Homo sapiens: one gene and its partners. The protein of the gene in region 1 purifies or fractionates together with the protein of each later gene. This does not show direct contact. Each region holds a gene or a part of one and is shown in the gene's direction. Other genes may lie near its edges.

What was found.
Region 2: the proteins of CILK1 (region 1) and KATNIP purify together in Homo sapiens (affinity purification with mass spectrometry; 3 studies listed by BioGRID and IntAct, with this or other methods). This does not show direct contact.
Region 3: the proteins of CILK1 (region 1) and SMYD2 purify together in Homo sapiens (affinity purification with mass spectrometry; 2 studies listed by BioGRID and IntAct, with this or other methods). This does not show direct contact.

Annotation. Positions count from the first base shown.
Region 1 is NC_000006.12:53,009,684-53,016,988, reverse strand, and holds part of CILK1 (serine/threonine-protein kinase ICK), read left to right. Parts: intron 1-738; coding exon 739-906; intron 907-3,006; coding exon 3,007-3,327; coding exon of another isoform or gene 3,328-3,348; intron 3,349-4,761; coding exon 4,762-4,952; intron 4,953-5,071; coding exon 5,072-5,220; intron 5,221-7,305.
Region 2 is NC_000016.10:27,552,977-27,560,281, forward strand, and holds part of KATNIP (katanin-interacting protein), read left to right. Parts: intron 1-637; exon of another isoform or gene 638-657; intron 658-7,305. UniProt on the Homo sapiens protein: May influence the stability of microtubules (MT), possibly through interaction with the MT-severing katanin complex.
Region 3 is NC_000001.11:214,333,050-214,337,827, forward strand, and holds the end of SMYD2 (N-lysine methyltransferase SMYD2), read left to right. Parts: intron 1-1,150; coding exon 1,151-1,259; intron 1,260-3,654; coding exon 3,655-3,735; 3' UTR 3,736-4,082; downstream 4,083-4,778. UniProt on the Homo sapiens protein: Protein-lysine N-methyltransferase that methylates both histones and non-histone proteins, including p53/TP53 and RB1. Specifically trimethylates histone H3 'Lys-4' (H3K4me3) in vivo. The activity requires interaction with HSP90alpha.

The DNA of each region.
Region 1 (7,305 bases):
CAACAACACTAAGCATATAGTAGGCATTCCAGAACTGTCAAGTGAATGAACGATAAAAGCTATATGTATTGCCACTTGGCTTTAAAAAGGAGTGGAGGAACAATTACCTTAGGCTGTATGTTATAAAATAGTAGAGTGTTAGAACTAGAAGGAACCTTAAAGACCATTTCTTTAGCATTTTCCATCATTCCCTCCAGCATTTAGTGTCCCATAGAAATGATGCATGAAAAAGTGGAAAGCTTGAGACTGGGTGAAACACCTTTCTTTACTGCTGGTTTTCTCCACATGTATACTTTCAATCACCAAGTTGAAGATACTGTAGGTAGAGTTTCACAAATTTATTTGTCCAGGAACAAAATGTTTTGTTTTATTTTGTTTTCCCCAAAAGAATATCTCATTGGCAGTTTTCAGAACCTCTGTCTCATGGAACACAGTTGGGGAAATATTAATTTGTTTCAATCCCAAAATCTCAAGAGAATCTCTTATGTAAAGATAATTAAGTTGGCAAATCCAGTGTCTTTTCCACTATTCCCCCAGATTTCATGGTCTTGGTGGTCTCTCTATTAATCTAAATCTATGTCTCATTCCATACAGTGCCACAGTAGTGAATGTGGGTGGTTAATGAATGTGGGTGGGTAATGACATGGTTGCCTTTCCATTTGGGGCACACATGCCAGAATACAAACTTATATCACAGCAATTGGCTGAGCAAGATTTTCTATCTTTTCCTTCTTTCAGACTGACTGGCCTGAAGGCTATCAACTTTCAAGTGCAATGAACTTCCGTTGGCCACAGTGTGTACCCAATAACTTAAAGACCTTGATTCCCAATGCTAGCAGTGAAGCAGTCCAGCTCCTGAGAGACATGCTTCAGTGGGATCCCAAGAAACGACCAACAGCTAGTCAGGTTTTCTTCCATTTTCTTGTTATAACGTTCATATCTAACTCTGAATAATTTCTATGAATTGCACAGGAAATATTTAGTATTTAGTATTATGGGTGAGAAATAGTACAGAATACCACTAATGGTGTACTATATAAGGTATGAGAACTTAAAATAGTTTGAAACTTACTGGGTATAAAGTAGTTACAATGTAAACAATATAGTTGCTTTGAAAATTGGCATGTAATTCACATGATATATCACCATTTATATGGAAATGGAAATAAACATATATTTATCTGTCTTTGGAGAATGTTTTCAAATCTATTCTCTATGAGTTACAATTATATAGTAGTTTGTTTATAAGCCGGTACTGGTTGTTGAAAGGCAACTTCATATTATGTAAAAGTCCAACTGACTCATAACCTGAAGAGATTGACAGATGAGATAGACCTAGGATAGTAACTGCACTTAGTATTTCATAGCACTTTACAGTGTGCAAATGCTTGAATATATTTTATATGATTTTTAATCCAATAAAGACTCCATGAGACAGGCATTATTGTTTTCAATTCTGTGAGTGAGAAAACTCAATCTTGGAAAGTTTAAGCAATTTGCTCTAATCACTCATCCATTAATTAGTTCAAATAGTGCAACTAACTACAATTCAACCAACTGACCGGAAGTATGAAGTCAGGTCCACTGGTTTCATAGCTCCTTTCCCAATCCATCCTCCCATGGGCCACTTAGACTTAAATAATGAAATATACCCAAAAGAGGTATGGTAACGCTGGGGGCTCTTATCACTCACAGGCATCTTGCAAGCCTCCTTTTGTGGTAGTTACATCTGGCCCCTTCTCAACTTGTCTCACTGACAATTACATTGCTCAGAGGATCATATAAGTGACCAATTCTAATCAGAGAAGATGTTCAGAAGAAGAGTGATGAGGATATTTGAAGAAAAGTGCCAATGTGGTGGTAGAATTTGTGATAGCTGGGGAGATGATAGTTGGAGGAATAATTAAGGAGTGTAGAAAAGCAATTTTCTGAAAGCTCAAGGAAAAAAGAACTACAATTTGGTGCCGTAAGACTTTGGATGGCTCAAGGGCTGGAAAGCTCTCAGGAATGCAGTTCTGGTGGTGAAATTCACAAATGGCTGCAGGGCAGAAAAGAAGCTTTTGGATGAACCCAGTTTTTTAACAGATGCATGTAAGAAATGGAAAGAAAAAGATTCTGTAACAAGGAAGCAAGAGAGGAATGTATGCTTTTAAGAATAGTGTGAAAAGCTAAAAATACCCCCCAAATCAGTTAAGACTTGCAAAAATGTCTGTGACTACAGAGAAGGCTTTCAAGTTATAATAGATGCTAGAGTCTGGGACCTCTACCAGGCTATTCCCATTAATTGCCTCTGTATCTACACTTGCATATAATCATTACAGATGTTTATAACTGTCCCAGGCCTACTCAGAAAGATTATGTTATGCTTAATAACTTTCATTCAGAAAGACAAGAGAATATAGGAAATATTTCAGAAAGAATTGTAACCCCCTAAACTTTAAGTTATCTCTTGGCTATCCAGAAAACTCAGTTATCCAGAACAACTGACACGGTTTTGTTCTTGATAGGGAAGGGTTAACTATATCATGTATTACACTCTTGGCACTTTTGGGATAAAAGCATATGTGCCTGCTTATTTTGTACTCAATTCTTCAGAGTCTTCCAGGATCATTATGTTTGGCTCTTTCAGTTTTGTATTATTTTTTTCTTCTTCTGTGGAATGAGGAAATAGGCTTGGAAGGATGAAATACTCTATTTAAGACACATAGCAAATAAGTTACAAAACCAGGATCTGTGTTGATCCAGAATGCTTTTTAGAAGTAGCCAGGGTAACAGCAGTGTAACTGGCTACTATATATAAATAACTTTGTGTTGCAATCATTACATATATTTTATGGTATCTTAGATAAGAAAAATCACAAGGGGTGTTAAAAATTCAAGGTACTGTTTTCTAATTGGGCTAAGAAACAGTAGTAAACTGGTCACAATGAAATATAGCCCAGTAATCAAGACAGTGGTAACTTTCCTGGCTAGACTTTTCTCCTAAAGCCTTATTTGTCATTCCAGGCACTTCGATATCCTTACTTCCAAGTTGGACACCCACTAGGCAGCACCACACAAAACCTTCAGGATTCAGAAAAACCACAGAAAGGCATCCTGGAAAAGGCAGGCCCACCTCCTTATATTAAGCCAGTCCCACCTGCCCAGCCACCAGCCAAGCCACACACACGAATTTCTTCACGACAGCATCAAGCCAGCCAGCCCCCTCTGCATCTCACGTACCCCTACAAAGCAGAGGTCTCCAGGACAGATCACCCAAGCCATCTCCAGGAGGACAAGCCAAGCCCGTTGCTTTTCCCATCCCTCCACAACAAGCATCCACAGTCGGTGAGCAGCCCAGATTCACCAGTGAGCTTCGTGTCTGTTTATTCCTCTTCTGACCCCATTATTGTGTGAAATATTTTCTTTTTCAGTATACAGGGTCCAGTTATGGTAGATTTATGTTTGCAACAGCATGGAATTGTAAAGACCCTTGGCTTTGGAGTGAAAGATCTAAATTCAAGTTCTGGCTGTGCCTGTTAAAACCGTTGTCACTAATGGAGGCAGCTATAGGGTAGTGGCTGGGAGCTGGCCTCTGCAGCCAGACTGCCAGGGGCTCAAATCTCAGCTCTGCTGTTTAGTAGCTTGATACCTATGCAAGTTATCTGGCTTCTCTGCTCCTCATTTTCCTCATCTGTAAAATAAGGATAATAATAGTACTTACCTGATACAATTGCTTTGAGGACTAATGAGTTAATACTTGAAAAGAATTTAGAATAATACCTGGCACCTAGTTACAACTCTGTAAAGGTCAGTAATTGTTATTAATCCCTATGGATTCAGTTTCCTCATTTATCAAAGGAAGATTATAGTGCATGTCTTACCTACCAGACAGGGTTGTTCATGAGGATCAAAGGCCATGATGTTTTTAAGATATTTTGAAAAGCATAAAGCGCTGTGTTAATATTTGTAGATTGTTATCCACATTACTGCTGTTATTCAATATGTTAATGCTGGGCTATTAACTGAGCCCAGATCTTTCTGCTCCTCTTTGGCTGCTTTTCAAAAGAAAAAAATGAGTGTTAGATTTAGTAAAATAATAACCTGACAAGGGGTTCTATTTTTTATTAGCTTTGCAGTGCTGTCTGAAGAGGCCAACTGTCTATCCTTTATGAAAAAGTGGCACTTTCTGTGTCAGTTAGTATTTGCTGACTGCTGGCTCCCAACCACCACAATGTGAGATGCAAGGGTGGTATCTCTGGCCTAGTCACTTTATTGCAGCACACAATTTAGAAGTGGTATGTGTATGGAAATGTCCTGTTGTAGCTAATTCTTTATAGCTAAGAGATAGTAACTATATATACTGAGAAGGCAAAAAAAAGCATTATTTGCATTGATTTCTGTAAAAGGACAGGCTAACTGACATCTTAGCCTTAATTTCTTACATCCATATTTATAACAGAGATCATATTAACTCATCTAGGATGAGACTGAGTATGAATTTAGCCATCTTCCTGGTGTGTAAGAAGTATCTTAAAAATTTTTTTATCCTTATTTTATACAACTTTAACATCATCAATGGATGGCAGCTGATACAATCTGTGAAGGATGAGTGAGACAGAAAGATTGGGAATGTGTTTTCTACAGTTGCCCCTTCAGATAAGCAATGTTATGCCCCAGGAGCCTCCTTTGCATAGCAGAGAAAGTTCAGATGGAGATTACTCATGGATGAGTTCTGTTAATGCCAAGTATTGCTTTCCCCCACCCCGTTTGTTTACACAGAAAATCACAGCTGGCCTGGAGCACAAAAATGGTGAGATAAAGCCAAAGAGTAGGAGAAGGTGGGGTCTTATTTCCAGGTCAACAAAGGATTCAGATGATTGGGCTGACTTGGATGACTTGGATTTCAGTCCATCCCTCAGCAGGATTGACCTGAAAAACAAGAAAAGACAGAGTGATGACACTCTCTGCAGGCAAGTGTGCTGCTCACATTTGTAAACAGACTGAATCTGGAATTCATGAGATTATGGGTACATATCCGAGAATACATACTGTCTCTCGTGCTGACCCAAGCCATGCTCTCTTCATTCAGGTTTGAGAGTGTTTTGGACCTGAAGCCCTCTGAGCCTGTGGGCACAGGAAACAGTGCCCCCACCCAGACGTCATATCAGCGGCGAGACACGCCCACCCTGAGATCTGCAGCCAAGCAGCACTATTTGAAGCACTCTCGATACTTGCCTGGTAATATAAATGACTTGGCTTTACTTTGATTATTAATAAGAAACCCTGTCCTTGGAATCACATATTCACAAAGGTTCTGTTTTAGAAGGCAGATACTAGGGGGCTTCCCTTCAGAACTGAGGGGAACATCATAGAAATATTTGCTGAAGCCCAAGCCTCACTTTTTTTTTGAGTTGGAGTCTCTCTCTGCCACCCAGGCTGGAGTGCAATGGCGCCATCTTGGCTCACTGTAGCCTCCACCTCCTGGGTTCAAGCGATTCTCCTGACTCAGCCTTCTGAGTAGCTGGGACTACAGGTGCCCACCACCATGCCTGGCTAATTTTTGTATTTTTTAGTAGAGACAGGGTTTCACCATATTGGCCAGGCTGGTCTTGAACTCCTGATCTCAAATGATCCACCAGCCTCGGCCTCCCAAAGTGCTGGAATTACAGGCATGAGCCACCGTGCCTGGGCCCAGGCCTCACATTTTTATCTTTTATAGTCACCCAAGATAAGAAATATGGTATAGGAAACTGGGTCCAGCCTCCAGGGAGGGAGGAACTGGCAAAAGCTGGGCGGCATGTCTGAGGCCCCTCTACCAGACCAGGTTTAGGGGAAATGGCCAATAGGGAAACCAGGGTAGGAGCTTAGTCACACTGTCCTGGCAGTACTATGGGGGTTAAATGTCAATGCTATAGTTTGGTGGGTATCCAAGCCTCTCTCCTGATTTTCTATATTCCAAACTTACAGCATTAGTGAATCATTCATTCAGTACATATGTATCAAGCATCTACTGCATGCCAAGCACTGCGAATATTATTGTGAACAAAACAGCCAGGCAGGGCCACTGGGTCACACAACCCTGGGGAATTCCTTCACACTGTAGTCTACACAGTGGCTTTATACAGCAGCTTTATACAGCAGCTTTGCAAACAACATCCTCACCCTCACACAGCTTATCTGCTAGTGGTGGGAGAGAGACTTTAACAAATAGACAAATAGTAATCACAGATTGTAAAAGAATGGTCAGGTAAGGCCTCTCTGAATAAGCAACTTGACTGGGCCCCAAAGAATGAGAAGGAACCAAATGTGCAGAGAGCTGAGGGCAGAGCACACCAGGGAGAGAGGAAACAGCAAGTGCAAAGGTCTAGAGGCAGGAGAGGGCTTGTCCTGTGAGAGGAATGGCAGAAGCCAGTGTGGCCAGAGCATAGTGAGAAAGGAGGTGACGTAATGTGTAGTATGAGGCATTTTTGGGGCCTTGTAAGAAATTTGGATTTTGCTTCATGAGCGATGAGAAGTCCCTGAAGGGTTTTAACTGAAGGAGTGATGTGGTTGTATCAACACCTGTGTGCTGAGTAGGGGAGGGGCCAGCAAGCTGTAGCTGTCATCCAGGTGAGGGAGATGGCGGCACAGGCTGAGCTGGAGTCAGAAGGGAGGAATGGGGTGAGAATGGCAGGCCCTCTTGATGCATGAAATTCCTCACCCTCTGGTTTGGAATGTGGCTTCTAAATATTGCTAGACTTCATCAGGATTGACATTTTGTTCTTAGAAGATTGGCCTGACAGGCCCCAGGATGATCTGGAAGAAGAGAGATCCAGATGACAGGTATAGAGTGATCCAGTATGAGTGGCCAAGCCTCGAATTACAGTGACCACAGGCAAAAAGGAGCAGGGAGTGAATCAGAGAGCTATTTTATTTCTTTTTGGTTGTAGGGGAAGAAGGAGAAGGATAAAGGGGGAATTTAAACTTTCAGTTCTGAAAAAAAGCTGCAGTGCCTGTGGGAATGGGAGTAATGGTCCAGGTCGGGTGAGAAGATGGAACTCTGGAGACAAGACAGAGAGAGGAGAGCAGAGGGCTGCAGAGTTGGAGGCCATGGGTGGGGGATGGAGAAGAAACTGAAAAGGTGACTGAAAGGAAGTAGTCTGTGAAGGGGAAGAACAGCATGTCCAGCAGCAGTGAAGCCCAGGATGGCACCAGAGGGCCAAGAGGTGGGACAGATCCATTGGATCTTAGAAGCATAAGAGGCCTCTCTCGGGCCACCAACCAGTGAGATATCTTTCCTCGGACATCTGTCAGATGACATCATCACAGTCAGTTTTTGCTTTG
Region 2 (7,305 bases), on another chromosome or scaffold:
AAGAACCATGCCAGGCCACAAGTGGCAGTTTCTTAAATGTTAGTCACAGTGTGTCATCTGAAGCCTTATAGGTGAACTTTTATACTGTGTTACATTAAAATCCATTGGTCTATCTTGCCCTTTCATTGGCTGCTTTACCCATATATGGTTTTATAACATCAGCCATTGGTCGTTTAGAAAATGTTGGTTCAGTGAGTTATGCAAATCTAAACGTTGACCTTTCAGATGCCATTATACGGTATTTAAAAAATCACATTTGTTAATATCACCACCTATTTCATTTTAAAAAGGAGTTTAAGTATTAGGAAACTATCAAACTCAAGGTAATGGAAACAAGTTTTCAACTTGTTTTCACTTGACAGCTTGAATTTTAACATTGGCAGCAAATATTGTCAGCTGTTTCCTTGAAGTGACAGACTCACTTATTTCATATTTGAGAAAATTTCTGCCAAATTCCCAAGACTGAATAACCAAAATTTGTCTATTATTTTATTTACTGCCATGTACTCACATTTAAAACAAACAAACAATTATTTTTATTTAAGAATGTCCTGATGGTTGGGTTCAGTGGCTCACGCCTATAGTCCCACCGCTTTGGGAGGCCAAGACAAGAGGATCTCTTCAGCCCAGAAATTCAAGACCAGCTTCGTCAACATAGTGAGACTCCATCTCTACTAAATAAATAAATAAAATAAATAAATAAATAAATAATAGTCAGGCATGGTAGCATGCACCTGTGGTTCTAGCTGCTAAGGAGACTGAGGTGTGGGGATCACTTGAGCCCAGGAGGTCAAGACCAGCCTGGGCAACTTAGTGAGACCCCATCTCTGTAAAAAGTAAAAAATTAGACAGGTATAGTGGCTCGTGCCTGTAGTCCCAGCCACTCAGGATCAGTTGAGCTTAGGAGGTTGAGGCTACAGTGAGCCATGACTGTGCCACTGCACTCCAGCCTGGGCAAAAAGACCTTGTCTAGAGAGAGAGAGAGCAGGGGGTGGGGTGGGGGGAGAGAGGAGAGAGAAAGGAAGGAAGGAAAGAAGGGAGGGAGAGGAGAGAGAAAGGAAGGAGGAAAGAAGGGAGGGATGGAAGAAGGGAGGGAGGAAGGAAGGAGGGAAGGTTTCTAGTACATTGTGGTAACATTGCCTTGATTCAGACTGCAAGCAGTTTTACCCACCATTGCTTTGTGTCATAAGTACAAATGTCAACACAGCCAGATGGGGTGGCTCACGCCTGTAATCCCAGCACTTTGAGAGGCCAAGGTGGGCGATCACCTGAGGTCGGGAGTTTGAGACTAGCCTGGCCAACATGGTGAAACCCTGTCTCTACTAAAAATACAAAAATTAGCTGGGCATGGTGGCACATAACTGTGGTCCCAGCTACTTGGGGGAGGCTGAGGCAAGAGAATCGCTTGAACCCAGGAGGCAGAGGTTGCAGTGAGCCAAGATCATGCCACTGTATTGCAGCCTGGGCAACAGAGTGAGACTGTCTCAAAAGAAAAAAAATTCAACACAGTGAAATACTCTTCAAATTATGATTAAAATACTTTTGTCTTTGTGGACCCCTCCTTCTCCCAGGATCTGCACCTTTGAGAAACATTGCTACAGTCCATTTTCAGGAAGGCTGCTTTGTGCCTTCTAATGAGCATCTCTGTACTTGCAGTCTTAGGACGTTATTGTAGCCTAGTAGAGGGGTATGTTCATTTTCAGATTGGCCCCCAAAAGGAAAAATTTATTCTCAGAAGTGTTTACCCTAGGGTCATATTTGACCTCCAAAGAATCCCATTTTCTGTTCTGATTTTTTAAACTTTGATTTACACTTTTTTTTTTTTTTTTTTTTTTGAGACAGAGTCTCGCCCTGTCACCCAGGCTGTAGTACAGTGGCGTGATCTTGGCTCACTGCAACCTCTGCCTCCCAGGTTCAAGCGATTCTCTTGCCTCAGCCTCCTGAGTAGCTGGGATTACAGGTGCACGCCACCACGCCTGGCTAACTTTTTTGTTTTTTGTTAGTAGAGATGGGGTTTCACCATGTTGGTCAGGCTGGTCTCGAACTCCTGACCTCAGGTTATCCACCTGCCTCAGCCTCCCAAAGTGCTGGGATTATAGCCATGAGCCACCGCACCTGGCCCTGATTTATACATAATTTTATAGGCACATACCTATTTATTGGATAAAGTGAAGCATACCTTATTGTGATTCTAACTAACTAGGTAAGCCAAGCCTGGCCTTATTAGAAAGATGTTTACTTCCTACGTTCACAAAAGCTTAAATGTCTAGCAGATGCCCTCCAAACTGGACTGTAATTTAGTTTATTCGGCATGTCTTAATCACCATAGCTTTTCACAACCCTTTCCCTGGCCTTTTGATTTTGACTTTGGGCAGGTCCTATCTGTTTCTGTGATGCAGTGTAATGTCCTTAGGTTTGGGGGCCAGATAGCCCTGGATTTGAATCTCTGCTGTACACTTTGACCTCTCTGAGCCTTGGTTTTCCTGTCAGTAAAATGGACATGATAATGAAGCCTACCTTGTTTTGTGGCTTCAATGAAACAATGCATCAAGTCTGGCATATAAAAAAATGTTCCTGGCTGGGCGCGGTGGCTCACGCCTGTAATCCCAGTACTTTGGAAGGCCGAGGCAGGCAGATCACCTGAGATCAGAAGTTCGAGACCAGCCTGACCAACATGGAGAAACCCTGTCTCTACTAAAAAAATGCAAAATTAGCTGGGTGTGATGGTGCATGCCTGTAATCCCAGCCACTTGGGGGGCTGAGGCAGGAGAATCGCTTGAATCTGGGAGGCAGAGGTTGTGGTGAGCCGAGATTGCGCCATTGCACTCCAGCCTGGGCAACAAGAGCGAAACTCCGTCTCAAAAAAAAAAAAAGTTCCTACAGCCAGGCGCGGTGGCTCATGCCTGACTTTGGGAGGCTGAGATGGGTGGATCACGAGGTCAGGAGTTCAAGACCAGCCTGGCCAAGATGGTGAAATCCTGTCTCTACTAAAAATACAAAAATTAGCCAGGTGTGGTGGCGGGTGCCTGTAATCCCAGATACTCGGGAGGCTGAGGCAGAGAATTGCTTGAACCTGGGAGGCGGAGGTTGCAGTGAGCTGAGATTGCACCACCGCACTCTAGCCTGGGCCAGTGAGTGAGACTCTGTCTCAAAAAAAAAAAAAAAGTTCCTATATAGTAGCTGTTGTTATCATTATCTGCAAATAGGCAGACTTATTCCACACAGTTGACAGAAGAGGGAAGCGTGCTGATGAAGCTCTCTAGCAGATGATAACTTTTGTAATTAGCACACTCTTTGCTTAAGAGAAAATCCAATGTTTGACATTTTTTATTCCATGAAGGTACATTGGCAGTGTGTGTTTTCTGCCTATGAAAATGTTCGCCTTTCTGTTAAAGTTGAATTTTCCCCAGTACTTTAAAAATATGAAATGGTTTAGGAAAAAAAATTCTATTTCATTTTCAAGGAACATAATAATTAGACAAAAGTTCAGCACATTGATATAATTAGAAAGGATTTGGAAGTTGTTCATTTGCTTTTCACTGCTCCCCTAGAGCAAATATTCAACATTTCCCTTGTTTATACTGTTCATTTGCTTAGCAAACTTTCTCAAATAATTAATAATGCCAAGATGATATTTAGCCTCACTTGTCCAAATAATCCCAGACTGCAAACAGGTGATGGTTGAATTAGGAAGGTTTTGCTGAGAGTACACCATCGGTTTAGCTGGTCTCTCCTGTCCTTGTGTGGTATTTACCTGGCTTCTTGGTGATTTGTCTGTTTCTCTTACTACTTAAACCCAGCAAAAAAAATAATAAAATAACAATCAAATGCAATAAAACAAAGCAAGCATTCAGCAGGTGAAATAAACATACATCCCATAGACTCTTTGTGTCTGTTCTGTTTTCTTCTTGTTCCAATCCTTCTATCTGATTAGTTTCTTTTCTCTCAGATTTTTTCAGAGTTCGTTCCTCCTGTCACTTTAACTTATAGGAAGTCGGCCCATAATGTTTTGCTTATTTTTCCTTATGAGATTCATTCCATGATTCAACATTTCAGTGCCTTCCGTGCATTGGAATTCAGAGATGCCAAAATGAGTAAGATTGAATCCAGGTGAAGGCGATATGGGAATTCATTGTACTATTCTTGACATTTTTCTGTGAAGTTGATTTTTTTTTTTTTTTTTGAGGTGGAGTCTCACTTTGTAGCCCAGGCTGGAGTACAGTGGCGCGATCTTGGCTTACTGCATCCTCCGCCTCCCGAGTTCCAGTGATTCTGCTGCCTCAGCCTCCTGGGTAGCTGGGATTACAGGCACATGCCACCACGCCCAACTAATTTTTGCATTTTTAGTACAGACGGGGTTTCACCATGTTGCCCAGGCTGGTCTCGAACTCCTGACCTTAGGTGATCCAACCCTACCCCTTGGCCTCCTAAAGTGCTACGGTTACAGGTGTGGATTTTTTTTTTTTTTTTTTTGAGACAGAGTCTTGCTCTGTTGCCCAGGCTGGAGTGCAATGGTGAGATAACTCACTGGTGCGTCCATCTCCTGGCTCAAGCGATCGTCCCATGTCAGCTGTCCAAGTAGCTGGGACTACAGGTGTGTGCCACCATGCCCAGCTAATTTTTTATTTTTTGTGGAGATGGGGGTCTTGCTATGTTGTCCAGGCTGGTCTCCATCTCCTGAGCTCAAGTGATCCTCCCACCTTGGCCTCCCAAGTTGCTAAGATTACAGGCATGAGCCACTATGCCTGGCTGGAAATGAATTCTTTATATCAGAGCTTGCACAAGTGGGCTGAAACAGCCCACATGCATGTTTATTTGGCTCATAATGTTTTGTTTTTTAAATTTTTGAATTAGTTGTCAACATTGAAAAATGAGCAGATTTCTTATAAATACCTGATTGTGGTATTTTCTTGAAAATATCAATAAAGTCTGTTAACACCAAATCAGAATTCTGCATGGCAACAATTGTCCCACCACCCGAGTTAAGTGGAGACTTTGCCCTTTAAGAGGGAGGTGGGCCTGTCTAATGACTGGCTTCTCTCATTGTGTCTGTCACTCCTAGGCCTGTCAGCATTTGTACTTAGAATTCTACTTTAGTATTAACTTGTACAGTTGTGAAAACTCCTGTGGACTTCCTTGTATGCCATACTGGACTATACTTATTCTTTTTGTTTGTTTTTTTGTTTTTAGATAGAGTCTTGTTCTCTCACCCAGGCTGGAGTGCAGTGGTGCGATCTCAGCTCACTACAGCCTCTGCCTCCTGGGTTCCAGTGATTCTCCTGCCTCAGCCTCCTAAGTAGCTGGGATTACAGGTGTGTGCCACCACACCTGGCTAATTTTTGTATTTTTAGTAGGGATGGGGTTTCATATGTTGGCCAGGCTGGTTTCGAACTCCTGACCTCAAGTGATCTGCCTGCCTTGGCCTCCCAAAATGCTGGGATTACAGGCATGAGTCACCATGCCCAGTTTCTTTTTGTTTTAATCTGAAAAAAAGGGAATATATTATCTGCCTTTAGAAACTTCATAGTATGGTGAGAAAGCAGACATAAACAGATGACTACATTTCAACATGGGAGTCCTTAGAAGATAATATTTGTAGAGGTCTTCCCCTTTCCCAAAGCAGTGTGGCCCACTGCCTGCTATTGTAAATAAAGTTTTATTGGAATGCAGCAGCACCCTTTCACATACATATAGTCCATGGCTGTTTTCTTGCAGAGTTGAGTAGTTGTAAAAGAGACTTATGTGGCCCACGGGCCAAAAATATTTACTATCTGGGCCTGTACAGGAAACGTTTGCTGACTGTTGCCGTGGCAGATCTGATTTGATTCCTGAGACAGCTCAATGGGATACTGTGATTGTGTCTGTTTTATACCACACACCTAGTAGGTAGCAGAGCCAGGACTCAGTCGAATAAGGTCTACACTTGGTAGTATGTTATGGAAGGCCCATTTCAGCCTTGTTACTGCCAGTGTGTGGCCAGGTTCTCACACCTGGAGAGTGAGTCTGTGGGGAAGAACTGGCCACTGGGCTGATGGAATAATATACATTTTGAAAGGTACCCGTTTTGACTACATTCCCAGCTCCCTCAGCATCTGGTCCCATGACTGCTTCTCTCTTTCCAAATGGGAGTAGGCTAATGCAGAGCAATGTGGTTGGTTGCAAGGAAGAACTTGAAACTGTTTGCAGAGCACTTTATGTAAAAGTAAGAAAGTGTGACTACTGATGTCCCATGGGGCTTTGCAGCTTTAACAATTGCCCTATGGATCATATCACCTTGAAGTATAGAATTTCTCTGGGGAATTAGCTCCCCTCCAGTCTCATCTTTTTAGACACTTGCCTACCTGCTCTCACACCCAGAGGTTTTACACTGCGCTGTACAGTGTCTATCAATATGTTTTTCCATATTCAAAAATAGTGATTTCAGGCCAGGCATGGTGGCTCATGCCTGTAGTCCTAGCACTTTGGGAGGCTGAGGCAGGAGGATCAGTTGAGCCCAGGAGTTTGAGATCAGCCTGGGCAACACGGTGAGACCCCACCTCTACAAAAAATTGTTAAAAATTATTTGGGCATGTTGACACATGCCTGTGGTTTCAGCTACTCGGGAGGCTGAGGTGGGATCACCTTAGCCCAGGAGGTTGAGACTACAGTGAGCTGTGATCATGCCACTGCACTCTAGCCTGGGCAACAGAGCAAGACCCTGTCTCAAAAAAAAAAAAAAAATAGTAAGGTCATGGTGGCTCATACCTATAATCTCAGCACTTTGGGAGGCCGAGGCAGGCGGATCACTTGAGGTCAGAAGTTTGAGAACAGCCTGGCCAACATGGTGAAACCCCGTCTCTAGTAAAAATACAGAAATTAGCCAGGCATGGTGGCACCTGCCTATAATCCCAGCTTCCTGGGAGACTGAGGTGGGAGAATCATTTGAATCCAGGAGGCAAAGGTTGCAGTGAGCCTAGATCGCGCCACTGCACACCAGCCTGGGCGACAGAGCGAGACTCTGTATAAAAAAAATAAATAAATAAAAAATCCAGGTGTGGTGGCTCACGCCTGCAATCCCAACACTTTGGGAGACTGAGGCGGGCAGATCACGAGGTCAGGAGTTCAAGACTAGCCTGGCCAACATGGTGAAACCCCGTCTCCACTAAAAATACAAAAATTAGCCGGGCGTGGTGGCGGGTGCCTGTAATCCCAGCTATTCAGGAGGCTGAGGCAGGAGAATCGCTTGAACCTGGGAGGCAGAGGTTGCAGTGAGCTGAGATCGCGCCACTGCAGTCCAGCCTGGGCTATAGAGTGAGACTCTGTCTC
Region 3 (4,778 bases), on another chromosome or scaffold:
CTGGTCTGAATGTCCACTGCCCACTCCACCCTCTACTTACCCCACTGTGCCCTGATTAGCCAGCAGGGGGAGCCCAAAGGAAGCCAGCTCTTAAAATCTGCTCTTGGAAACAGAATTTGTTAAATTGGGGATAAACTCAAACCTTCCTTTTCTCCTAGAGTGTGTGAGGAAGTGCACTGGCCTCATGCGCAGTTCTCTGTGTGAGATCTGTAGGGAGAGAGGAGCAGACAGACAGCATCCCAGCCCTGTGGTTCTCCCAGCAGGGCCTTGCTCTGCTAGACCCATCTTTATCTGCGTGAGCCCCTCCCGGAAGCCCAGCTCTGGTCTTCTGTGGGGCCGTGGGTCCCAGGGCTGCCTCCTACCCAGGAATACAGCTAGAACATGTCTTTTTGGACTGACTTTCAGGAGACACAGGGTGGAACAGCCTAGCCTTTAAATAAACACCTCTTACACACATGTAAACACACACACTGGCTCACCCACCAGCTGCCTCTGGGCCCTGTTCTTAGGGAAATGGCTGTTTCCCAGGCAGACCCCATCAGTCAGTCTTCAGGTACAGCCGGAGAGAACACTTGCTGTATCTAAAGCCCCTGCTGGACAATGGGGAAAGAACATCCAGAAGACACAGGAAGTGTTCTGACTTCAGAGCACTTAACTGTTTTGCTAAACCAACCCATATCATAGTGTGACAGAAAGCTGGGGTCTTAAGACACATTGGGGTGGGTGGGGGTTGGGTGGGTGGCTGTATGTCTGAGTACCTAAGGTGATAGGCCTAATTGCTGCCTTCATAAATGGGACATTTACTTCACAAGCTGTTTTCCCAGGGTCTTCCTCTGGGTATGTCTGAAATATAAAAATCTGGACTGGGATTGAAGATTGTGTTTACAAATGCTTTTGAATAGGATTTCTCCTGCAGTTGTTACGTAGCTTTTCAGAAACACACAAACTACAAATAATGAACAACATCTGCAATGATTCGGCAGGGTGGCAGCATCCACGCTCTCCACCCAAACCCTGGTGGGATTTGGAGAGGCCGCTGGTGGGCAGAGGTTGGCCCTAAGCATGGCAGCCTCCGGCTTACTGCACCCAGCCTGTGGGGCGGCTCAGTAGCCGCTGACATGGTGGCCTGTTGTCTCTTCTCTTGTTCTAGTAAGCACTATCCTTTGTACTCCCTCAACGTGGCCTCCATGTGGTTGAAGCTAGGGAGACTCTACATGGGCCTGGAACACAAAGCCGCAGGGGAGAAAGCCCTGAAGAAGGTATGTCTGTAACTCGGCCTTAGGATTCCCAGTGGCCAGATGGCCTCCTTAGCGCACCTCCTTCATGCCTCACCAGGCTGAATGGCTGAAGCAGTGGAGGGTGAGCAGCTCTCACCCACCCTCTTGCCGTGGGAGCAGCGGGGGTGGGTCCTGCAGGTGAGGGGGGAGTGAGAGAGTGCACCTCTGCTGTGTTTGTGTCCAGGCCTCCCTCAAAGGGAATGGGTGCCCACATCCAGAGGGCTGGCCGTGATCACAGGCCCAGCCTGTGCCTGGAGGAATTCTCCATTTGTTTGACCTTTGGGATTTTCAGAATGATGATCCCCAGTTGTGAAATCAAGGAGGTAGGATATGGAGAGTTAGGGTTAGGATGTTAGAATTGCGCATTTGCTGTTTCTAAAATGCACTTAATCATCCTCTCAGTTCATTGAGGACCAGTTACATACCAAGACCCTCGTGTGCTTTTCCTTTGAATTCTCACAAAACCGAGAGGCTTTCCTGATGAAGAAAGTGAGGTTCAAGCAGGTTTAAGTGAGTAATAGCCTAGGGTACATGGTGGGGCCTTCATTCAAATGAGGGTCTAAATTGAAAGCTTCGGCTCCTCCCACTCAAGCTGTGATGAAACTGGTGGGGAGCCAGAACCCTGGGCAGCATTCGCCTTTGGTTTGATGGCGGCCCTGTGCTGCCCAGGAGCCAGGCCCCGACCCTCACATCATGGGAGGTCAGAGTCATCATCCTGAGTATTGATTCTCATTGTTTGTGATGTGGAATTCACAGTCAATACAGTGTAATTTAGGGGATAGTCCATTTACTCCTGTAAGAAACTTTATAAAATGCTGGGGCCATGGACAGGGCCTGCAGGCCTAATCTTTCACCTTCTCCAAAGTTTCCCAATAGACTATTTGCGAAGATGGAATAAGGCCCACATCCCAAATAGAAGGGTCAGGGCACAGCCAGGCTGGAAGGGAGCACAGAACAAAATTTTCTGTTTTAAACCATGGAATTTGTCTTCTGAGAATTAGCCATTTGGGTCACAACTGCAAAGTGTGTCAGGTGATTAAGTAATAGATCAATGAAAGCTGGAGCAGATCTGAGCAAGGAACATGAGTCTTGAAATGAATGCCTGGGCAGAGTCGGCACCTGGAACAGGTGATTTCCGAAGGCTTGCACTGTTACTTGGCCTGCCTCCTCTTGGCTTGAGATCTAGGAGGAGAATATATAATAGATAGGAATGCCTGTCATAGTCACAGGCCATTAAAAATTCTCTGGGGGAATACTTTTTTCTCTGAGTAATTTGGCTGAATACAAAAGAGCAAATACATTCTTAGAGATGACATTTGATATAAACTTCCTGTATGCCAGGCGCTGTTCGAAACACTGTATCTGAATTAACAACCCTGAGAGGTAGGTATTATTCCAGTTTTACAGTTCAGGAAAATGAGGCACAGAGTGGTTAAGTAAATTACCCAAGGCCACACAGCTAGGAAATGATTAAACCACTGGAAACTTGACCATGTTACATTGCCTCACTATAAAGAAACCTTAAGTACATTCTCTAGCATCCCTCAATGAAACCTGCTACCTTTCTTTTAAGTTTTTAGAATATGTATTAAAAGGAAAGAGTATGCTTTTCGAAAGGGAAAAATAGTTTAGCTACGTCTTGCAGGTTAGTAATGTCAACTAAAAATCAAAATAGCTTTGATATAAAATTCACTATGGACTTTACCAGCATCACCTATTTTCTGGGTTGAACATAATCAAAAAAATTAGTCCTTAAAGCATGTTTTACTGAAAGATCTAGAATCTTGGGGCAAGAGAATGTCATGAAATCAGTTTCATGACATCGTTTCTCCAGCTGGATATTTTTGCAGAATGTTTTACCTAGCAGTAGACACTGGATGAGTTAGCTACCAGATGGTCTTCTCCTTTTTTAAAAAAAAACCAAGGCCAGGCACGGTGGCTCATGCCTGTAATCCCAGCACTTTGAGAGGCCAAGGCGGGCGGATCACGAGGTCAGGAGATCGAGACCATCCTGGCTAACACAGTGAAACCCCGTGTCTACTAAAAATACAAAAAATTAGCCAGGCATGGTGGTGGGCGCCTGTGGTCCCAGCTACTCGGGAAGCTGAGGCAGGAGAATGGCGTGAACCCGGGATGCGGAGCTTGCAGTGAGCGGAGATCGCACCACTGCACTCCAGCCTGGGCGACAGAGCGAGACTCCGTCTCAAAATAAATAAATAAATTAAAATAAAAACAGGTCCTGGTGGAGAACATAGGCTCTAATGGCCAGTTTGCATCCTGTGCCTTAAAGCAGAGAGATCCAACTTAAAGTTACCCTGGGTGGAGGTGTGAGGAGATTGGCTTCTAGGCTCTCATTGTTTGTCTTGCTTTTTCCTAGGCCATTGCAATCATGGAAGTAGCTCACGGCAAAGATCATCCATATATTTCTGAGATCAAACAGGAAATTGAAAGCCACTGAAACTATGCAGCATTTCAGTTTTCATTTAAACACTTAGTTCAGAAACCTTAAAGGATTTGAATATTTCAAATTGCACACGTCACTCCAGCATCTCTGTAAAATAATTGGAATGAAAATACTTCTTGCACTTAAACACTGCACATGCCGTACTTTGAGGTTAGTCTGAATCTTGAACTTTAATACCAAATTAATTTTGAATGCTTTTGTTTCCTAAGAGATAATGGCATGGTTTCATATGTTATACTTTGGACAGACAGAGTTTTAAAAATGGAATTATTTTTTCTTTCATGCCTCTTGTAATGTTCTGAACAAACTTGAATGATGAAAGTATTAAAGAGATATCAGTATTTGAGGTTTGTATTTTCTTCTGTCTCTGGGGAGGATTTCTCAGTGGTGGTGGGAGCCCAGTCTTGGAGTGAAAGTGACACCTGCTGTCCATAATTCAGCAAGCTCAAGTCTTCTCCATGGGACTGGGGTCGGGCAGCCTCTTTATTCTGCAGTTGCTCTTGTGGGGCTGTGCCTGTGGAGGAAGAAAATGGGAAGAAAGAGAAAAAGGTACACGAAGGAAAGAAAACTATCATCTATCTGTGGTGGAGGAACAGTCCAGTGACCCAAGTGCCCTCCAGCAGGCGAGGTTTTGAATCTGTTCTCTGGTGCCTGGTATTCCTTCAGTGTGTAAAGGTGCTTAGTGCGTGCTTTGCTTTCTTGGCTTTTCTGTCCCCATCTGTCTGAAAGCAGACTTGCCATCTCTCATTCTGTTGATTGTTCTGTGCAGTACTCTCCTTTTTGGAAAAACTCCAGGGTATGCTTGGGAAGGAAAAAAATGTTTTTCCTTACCAACCAACGCTGTGTTGTTGAGTAAACACTGATCTCTACCCACACAGACAACAGGAATCCAGCTTTCTGCAGCCCCACAGCCTAGACAGCAGCAACCTGGGGAGTTGTTTGTTAGCAACCATTGCACAGAAGGACGCAGCACACGTTCCTGAGTGCAGGGGTGTTACTCTTAGAAAAGCGTCTTGTAGTCGAAAGAGAGGAACTTC